2 linked regions of the Homo sapiens genome follow. The protein of the gene in region 1 purifies or fractionates together with the protein of each later gene. This does not show direct contact. Each region holds a gene or a part of one and is shown on either strand. Other genes may lie near its edges.

Region 1 (3,922 bases):
AATATCCTGCAGGTAATAACACTGATTTTTCTAATACTCAGAAACATCTACTTAGCAGTTGTGATACTAATTTGCAAAATGTAATAATGTTATACAAATATAAGATACTACTAAATACATAGTAGAAATAATTGCATGATTCCTGATATTTATATTCAAGGTATAAACATGACTGATTTCGCTGATACTACAGAATAAAAAAAATAAAGCTGCTATGTAAAAAATTAAAGAATATCTCAATTAGATATTTTTGTTCCCAATCTCTTTCAGACAGATCTATGAAATAATATAGAATATACTATCAATATGTTCTTTCATATGAAGTGAAAAAAATGGGATTTAAGTAGTGAGATAATTTCTATTTTTTACTTTTTTAAAAAAATAGACAGGGTCTTGCTATGTTGCCCAAGCTGGTCTCAAACTCCTGGGCTCCAGTGTGCTTCCTGCCTCAGCCTCCCAAAGTGCTGGGATTATAGGCATGAGCCATTGTGCCTGGCCTGTGGGATCATTTCTATTGGTTTTATATCAGTATTAATTAATAAGTCAATCAATTAATTAACCTTAATTATTTCTTTTTCTAAATAAGTATCAGCTGATTTAATCTCGCCCAATTGAATGCGTCTCTTTTGGTTGATCAATGCGATAGAGAAACTCTGCAGGTAAGAAGTATCCAAGATATTCCACTATATCTGGAGTAGTGTCATAATGGTAGTGTCCACCTTCTCCATGACGACTAAAAAAATGAGTGTGCTCCAGTCGCAAATCAAACCCCTAAGATAACAGACAAACAATATGTTAGTACTCAAATTATTGATTAGAGTTTAAGGGGGAGGGATAACTTTTTACGTTGCAATAGTTTTTATTTTTTAAATAGGTAATACATTCACATGTTCTAAATTCAAAGGGGGCAAAACGATGTATTCAGTAAAATGTATCTTCTTCTCTCTTGCCCTCACCACTCACTCCCCTTCCTAGCAGGTAACCAGTGTAAGCATTTTCTTGTATATCCTTCCATAAATACTTACTTTTATTTTTACTCAAATGTAGTATTTTGTACACACTTTTCTGCATGTAACTTTTTTTCATGTAACAATATAGTTTTGAGATCTTTGTATATGAAATCATAAAAGAGCTTCCTCATTCTTTTATACCTGCATGGTATTCTATTGCGTATGTAACTTCTCAACTGACACTTGCATTATTTCTAATTCTTTTGCTACTACAACAATACTGTAATAATAACCTTTTAACTAGTAATTTTACACAATTATGCATATATTTAAGTATAATATCCTAGGCATGTAATCACTGGATCAAGATATGACCAGGGTAGGCGGAGTAGCTCATGCCTGTAATCCCACCACTTTGGGAGGCTGAGGCGGGCGGATCACTTGAGGTCAGGAGCTCGAGACCAGCCTGGTCAACATGGCGAAACCCTGTCTCTACTGAAAATACAAAAATTAGCCGGGTGTGGTGGTGAGTACCGGTAATCCCAGCTACTCAGGAGGGTGAGGCAGGAGAACCACATGAACCCAAGAGGCGGAGGTTGCAGTGAGCCGAGATTGCATCACTGCACTCCAGCCTGGGCAACAGAGCGAGACTCTGTCACAAAAAATAAAAAAAAGAGAAGATATGACCAATATTTTAGTAGGTATTTGCTTTGAATTGGTCTGTAATATTTTTTCTAGCGTATAGTATTATAATATAATGAACACCAAACAAGATGACAGGAGACCTGAATCCTAGTTGTGACTCTACTAATTGTTTTTTTTGAGATGGGGATTATACTGTTACCCAGGCTGGTCTCAAACTTCTGGGTTCAAGTCAGCCTCCTCAGTAGCTAAGAATACTGGGGCATGTGACCATGCCCAACTACACCTGCTATTTAATAAAATAATTTTGGGTGTTATTTAAAATGCTTGTGCCTTCATTTTCTCAAAGGTAAAATCTGCTCTGCCTAACTCATAGGATGGTGAAGAGCTCCCTTATCTTCCAAAATAATTCTAGAGGCTACCCTCATTCTTAAATAACAACAACACATGGCCGGGCATGGTGGCTCATGCTTGTAATCCCAACACTTTGGGAGGCAGAGGTGGGTGGATCACCTGAGGTCAGTGGTTTGAGACCAGCCTGACCAACGTGGTGAAACCCCGTCTACTAAATATACAAAAATTAGCCAGGCATGGTGGCAGATGCCTATAATCCCAGCTACCCGGGAGGCTGAGGCAGGAGAATCGCTTGAACCCAGGAGGCGGAGGTTGCAGTAAGCTGAGATCCTGCCATTGCACTCTAGCCTGGGCAACAAGAGTGAAACTCTGTCTCAAAACAACAACAACAACAAACACAAAAGTGCCTAGTTCTTAAAGATTATCCTAAAAATCAAGCATTATCATTGTAGTATAATATAAAAAACAGACACAGACTTACTGGGTCTCTGGAGACAAAAACTGGTAGACAAACCAAAGGAGCTTTCATTTCATAAAAATGCAACCATTTATTCACTTCTTCATCAGAGTTCAAGGGGCAGGAAGAAAATTCTGCAGGCTACAACAAAAGATAATTACATAGGTAAACATACTGAATATTACTAAGAATTAAAAATTTTAAAAATATATTTTACTTATTTATTATTATTGTTTAATTATACTTGAAGTTCTGGGTTACATGTGTAGAACATGCAGTTTTGTTATATAGGTATACACGTACCCTGGTGGTTTGCTGCACCCATCAACCTGTCACCTACATTAGGTATTTCTCCTAATGCTATCCCTCCCCTAGTCCCCCACTCCCCGAAAGGCCCCGGTGTGTGATGTTCCCCTCCCTGTGTCCATGTGTTCCCATTGTTCAACAACCCACTTATGAGTGAGAACATGGGGTGTTTGGTTTTCTGATCTTGTGATAGTTTGCTGAGAATGATGGTTTCCAGCTTCATCCATGTCCCTGAAAAGGACATAAATTCATCCTTTTTTATGGCTGCATAGTATTCCATGGTGTATATGTACCACATTTTCTTAATCCAGTCATTTGAGTTGGTTCCAAGTCTTTGCTATTGTGAATAGTGCTGCAATAAACATATGTGTGCGTGTATCTTTATCACAGAATGATTTATAATCCTTTGGGTATATGCCCAGTAATGGGATTGCCGGGTCAAATGGTATTTCCAGTTCTAGATCCTTGAGGAATCACCACACTGACTTCCACAATGGTTGAACTAATTTACACTCCCACCAACAGTGTAAAAGCATTCCTATTTTTCCACAACCTCTCCAGCATCTGTTGTTTCCTGACAGGGTCTGGCTCTGTCACCCAGGCTGGAGTGCAGTGGGATGATCACAGTGGGCCTGGAAAAAGCACCACAAGTTTCCACTCTGGTGTGTGGGATTGGCAGCTGGGCCCCCAGCCTTCAGGCCTTCCCTGGCCCGAAAGTGGGGCCTCACCGGAAACCCGCCCCCTTCTGCCCCGGAACCTGTCTGCCTCCTGCTGCCGATCACGGAATCCAGGCTGTAGGTGCCAAGGGGTGCCTGAAGGCCAGTGGGGAGCTGCTCTCAGCCGCCGCTCAGCTTCCCTTCTACGCTCGTGTCAGCGCCCCAAATCCAGAAGGGGCCGGGACGGCAGGGGGCTGGTGTGTCAGCAGTGCCCTGAGCGTGTGCACACCTGGCTGGGCTGCGACAGCGACCGGGCTCTGCCTGACTTTGCTCCTGGATCGGAGCAGGCGCCGACAGCAGGGAGAAGCCAGGCAGTGGGAGCAGGCATTTCCAAGCCTGTAAGAGCAGTGGGGGCCTTCCCAGACCCCCAAGAATGCAGGAATGCCTGGGTCCGCAGCCACGGTTTGGGCAGCTGCAGCTGTGTGGAGAAGGCAGGGCTCCTGCCTGCTCCGTGGAGCGGGAGACCCAGGTCTGCAGCCGCGGGTTTGAGCTGCTGC
Region 2 (3,922 bases), on another chromosome or scaffold:
CTGCCCCAGCCTCCCAGGTAGCTGGGATTACAGGCGTGTTCCACCACGCCTGGCTTTTTTTTTTTTTTTTTTTTTCCCTGAGGCTGAGTCTTGCTCTGTTGCCCAGGCTTGAGTACAGTGGCACGATATCAGCTCACTGCAACCTCTGCCTCCCGGGTTCAAGTGATTCTCCTGCCTCAGCCTCCCAAGTAGCTGGAATTACAAGCGTGCGCCACCAAGCCTGGCTAATTTTTGTATTTTTAGTAGAGACGGGATTTCACCATGTTAGCCAGGCTGGTCTAGAACTCCTGACCTCGAGTGATCTACCCGCCTTGGCCTCCCAAAGTGCTGGGATTACAGGCATGAGCCACCACACCTGGCCTGAATCATATTACTTATTTTCTTGAAACCCTCCAGTGGTTTACTGTTTCAGTTGGAAAAAATCATAACTCCATCCTATGTTTCACGAGGCCTATGGTCTGGTCCCTACCTTCCTTCTTCATTTCCTGACCCTCCTCCTTGGTTCAGCCATGTTGTACCTTATTCGTGCCAAACTTATTCTTTCAGGTCTTTGTATTTACTGTTCCTTGTGCCAGGACTTTGTGCCCCTGCCCATTTTATTGTCTTTTAATTTCATTTTTTATTTTTTATTTTTAAATTTTTTCCAAATCCCTGCCCCACTCCCATTTCATTGTCTTTAAATAGCTAGTGCTTTCTTGTTATTGAGGTCACAGTCCTTGGTGAGCCCCTCCCCAGTGGCTCAGTCTTTGTTAGCCATTCACCCAAAGTTGACAGCAAACAGTTATCCTGTTTTACTTCAGTCATAGCATTTATGTATTTATTTGTATAAATTTAAGGGGTACAAGTGCAGTTTTGTTACATGGATATATTGCCTGGTTGTGAAGTCTGGGCTTTTTTTTTTTTTTTTTTTTCGAGATGGAGTTTTGCTCTTGTTGCCCAGGCTGGAGCGCAATGGCGCTATCTCGGCTCACCGCAGTCTCCGCCTCCCGAGTTGAAGTGATTCTCTGCCTCAGCCTCCCGAGTAGCTGGGATTATAGGCATGCGCCACCATGCCCGGCTAATATTTTCGTATTTTTAGTAGAGACGAGGTTTCTCAATGTTGGTCAGGCTGGTCTAGAACTCCCGACCTCAGGTGATCTGCCTGCCTCGGCCTCCCAAATTGCTGGGGAAGTCTGGGCTTTTAATGTAACCAACCATCACCCAAATAATGCACTTGTACCTGTTAGGTAATTTTTTATTCCTCACCATCCTCCCACCCTTCCCAATCTCCAGTGTCTATTATTCCACACTCCCTGTGTCCATGTGTACACAGTATTTAGCTCCCACTTATAAGTGAGGACATGCAGTATTTCACTTCCTGTTTCTGAGTTGTTATAACATTTATTACTGTTTGAATAAATTTTGTTCATTTATTTATTTATTGTATTTCCTCCCCTAGAATGTAAATTTTAGGAGGGCAAATGAGTATATTCTCAGCATCTAGAACCATGTCTGGTACATAGATGCATAGAGATGCTCAAATATTTGTTGAACGAAAATGAATGAGAGATATATGTTGTCACTGGGGGTAAAGAAGAGGGGAGAGAGATTAAGGAAAGAGGTTTACTGGGACTGGGAGACTGCCAAGGAAGTAGAGCCTATTTTCATTAGAAGCTGCCGCCTCTACTCTTTCTCTTTGGCTTTCATGTTCCTACCCTGGCTGAGGAGTAAGCTATAGTCATTACAGCACCCTTTTCTTTTTCTTTCTTTCTTTTTTTTTTTTTTTTTAAGACAGAGTCTCGTTCTGTCACCCAGGCTGGAGTGCAGTGGCGTGATCTCGGCCCGCCGCAACCTCCGCCCCCTGGGTTCAAGCGATTCTCCTGCCTTAGCCTCCCAGGTAGCTGGGATTACAGGTGTGCGCCACCACACCTGGCTAATTTTTTTATATTTTTCCACTCCTGGCTAATTTTTTTGCATTTTTAGTAGAGACAGGGTTTTACCCTGTCCAGGCTGGTCTCGAACTCCAGACCTCAAGTGATCCTCCTGCCTCAGCCTCCCCAAGTGCTGGGATTACAGGCATGAGCTACCGAGCCTGGCCCAGCACCCTTTTCTTGCTGCTACAAAGACTAGCCTATGAGCCTTTTAGGTTTTCACTGTTTTTACCATTTAACTTCATGAGAGATTCCAAAACTAGCAAAGTTTCAATCATGGAAGTCAGTGGATACTTGGGCGTGGCTGACAGGGAGCAGAAGGGCTGGTGAGTGGTAGAGCCAATGCAGGGGCTGAGGTCTCCCCAAGCCATGCATTGCTCAGTCCATGGCTGTGGGGAGACAATGCCATTTGTAGGAATGGCTAAACACCACCTACATTCTTTGTGGTAAGGCCAACTTGCCACACATCAGGAGGACAGGGGCTGTCTTAAAAGACATCACCTGGCCTGCCACACCTGGGCACCCCCTACCCCCAAGTCCCCACTGCGAGCAGCAGCCCCAGACATGAAGAACAACCCTTGCCCTCTTCTCGCAGGTTGCTATCGGCTGGTGGACTATTTGGAAGGGATCCGGAAGAATTTTGATGAGGCTGCCAAGGTGTTGAAGTTTAACTGTGAAGAGAACCAGCACAGTGATAGCTGCTACAAACTGGGGGCCTACTATGTGACTGGAAAAGGTAAGGAGGGCCTGCCTTTTGGGTCCTTGTCATTGATAGCAGTGCTGGCCTCACACCTGAGCCCCATGATAAGCTCTTGCAGAAGGGTCTCGCAGGCATTGGGAAAGTGCATTGTAGGAAGATGGAGAGGTAGGAGTTCAGCAGAGTGATGGGGGGAAGAACACAGCCTTTCAAGTTAGGTAAACCTTAGGGAATGCTATTGGCAAGTAGTGGGACCTTGAGCCAATCACTTCGACTCTGTGCCTCAGTTACATCACCTGTAAATTGGAGGGAAATAGTACTTGCTTTGTAGGGTGGTGAGGATTAAGTAGGACAGCATAGGAAAAGGCATCAGCATGTGCTTGGCACAGAGTAAGGGGTCAGTAATTATTGTCTTCCTTCTGTCTTTTCTCCTTGTACTCTAATTGTAGTTATCACTGGCATAGTGTTTACATTATCTATGGCTAAATAACAAAATAGTTATTTTTGTTCACCTCAATAGTTTCTGTGGGTCAAGAATTTGGGAGTGGTTTAGTGGGGGTACCTCAGGGTATCTCATGAGGTTATAGTCAAGACATTGGCCAGGGAGCCAGGGCTGGAGACATTGGAAGGCTTGACTGAAGTTGGAGTTTCCAATTCTAAGATGACTCACTCTGATGGCTGGTAGCAGAGGCCTCTAGTTCCTTACCAGCTGTTATTGGGAGAGCTCAGATCGTCATGACATGGTTCGCTCCATGGGCTGCTTGAGTGTCCTCATGACATGGCGTCTGGGTTCCCCCAGAGTGAGTAATTTAAAGGAGACAACAAGATAGAATCCACAGTGTCTTCTATGACCTATCTTTGGAAGTCACACACTTTTCATTTCTATCACATATTTATTAGATGTAGCCTACACTAAGGGGAAGGACTTAAATTCCACTTCTTGAAGAGGAAGGAATATTAAAGAACTTATGGACATATTTAAAACCACCACAGGCCAGGCACGGTGGCTCATGCCTGTAATCCCAGCACTTTGGGAGGCCAAGGCGGGTGGATCATGAGGTCAGGAGTTCAAGACCAGCCTGACCAACATGGTGAAACCCCATCTCTACTAAAAATACAAAAAAAAATTAGCTGGGCGTGGTGGCGCGCACCTGTAATCCCAGCTACTCAGGAGGCTGAGGCAGGAGAATCACTTGAACCCTGGAGGCAGAGGTTGCAGTGAGCTGAGATCGCGCCACTGCACTCCAGCCTGGGCAACAGAGCAAGACTCTGTCTCACAAAAAAAAAAAAAAAAACACACACACACATAAATAAG

Evidence for each region.
Region 2: the proteins of C11orf54 (region 1) and COA7 purify together in Homo sapiens (co-immunoprecipitation; 2 studies listed by BioGRID and IntAct, with this or other methods). This does not show direct contact.

What each region holds. Positions count from the first base shown.
Region 1 is NC_000011.10:93,758,364-93,762,285, reverse strand, and holds part of C11orf54 (ester hydrolase C11orf54), read right to left. Parts: intron 2,545-3,922; coding exon 2,428-2,544; intron 772-2,427; coding exon 598-771; 3' UTR 1-597. UniProt on the Homo sapiens protein: Exhibits ester hydrolase activity on the substrate p-nitrophenyl acetate, in vitro. Regulates DNA damage and repair by regulating HIF1A degradation via chaperone-mediated autophagy (CMA).
Region 2 is NC_000001.11:52,691,451-52,695,372, reverse strand, and holds part of COA7 (cytochrome c oxidase assembly factor 7), read left to right. Parts: intron 1-2,505; coding exon 2,506-2,646; intron 2,647-3,922. UniProt on the Homo sapiens protein: Required for assembly of mitochondrial respiratory chain complex I and complex IV.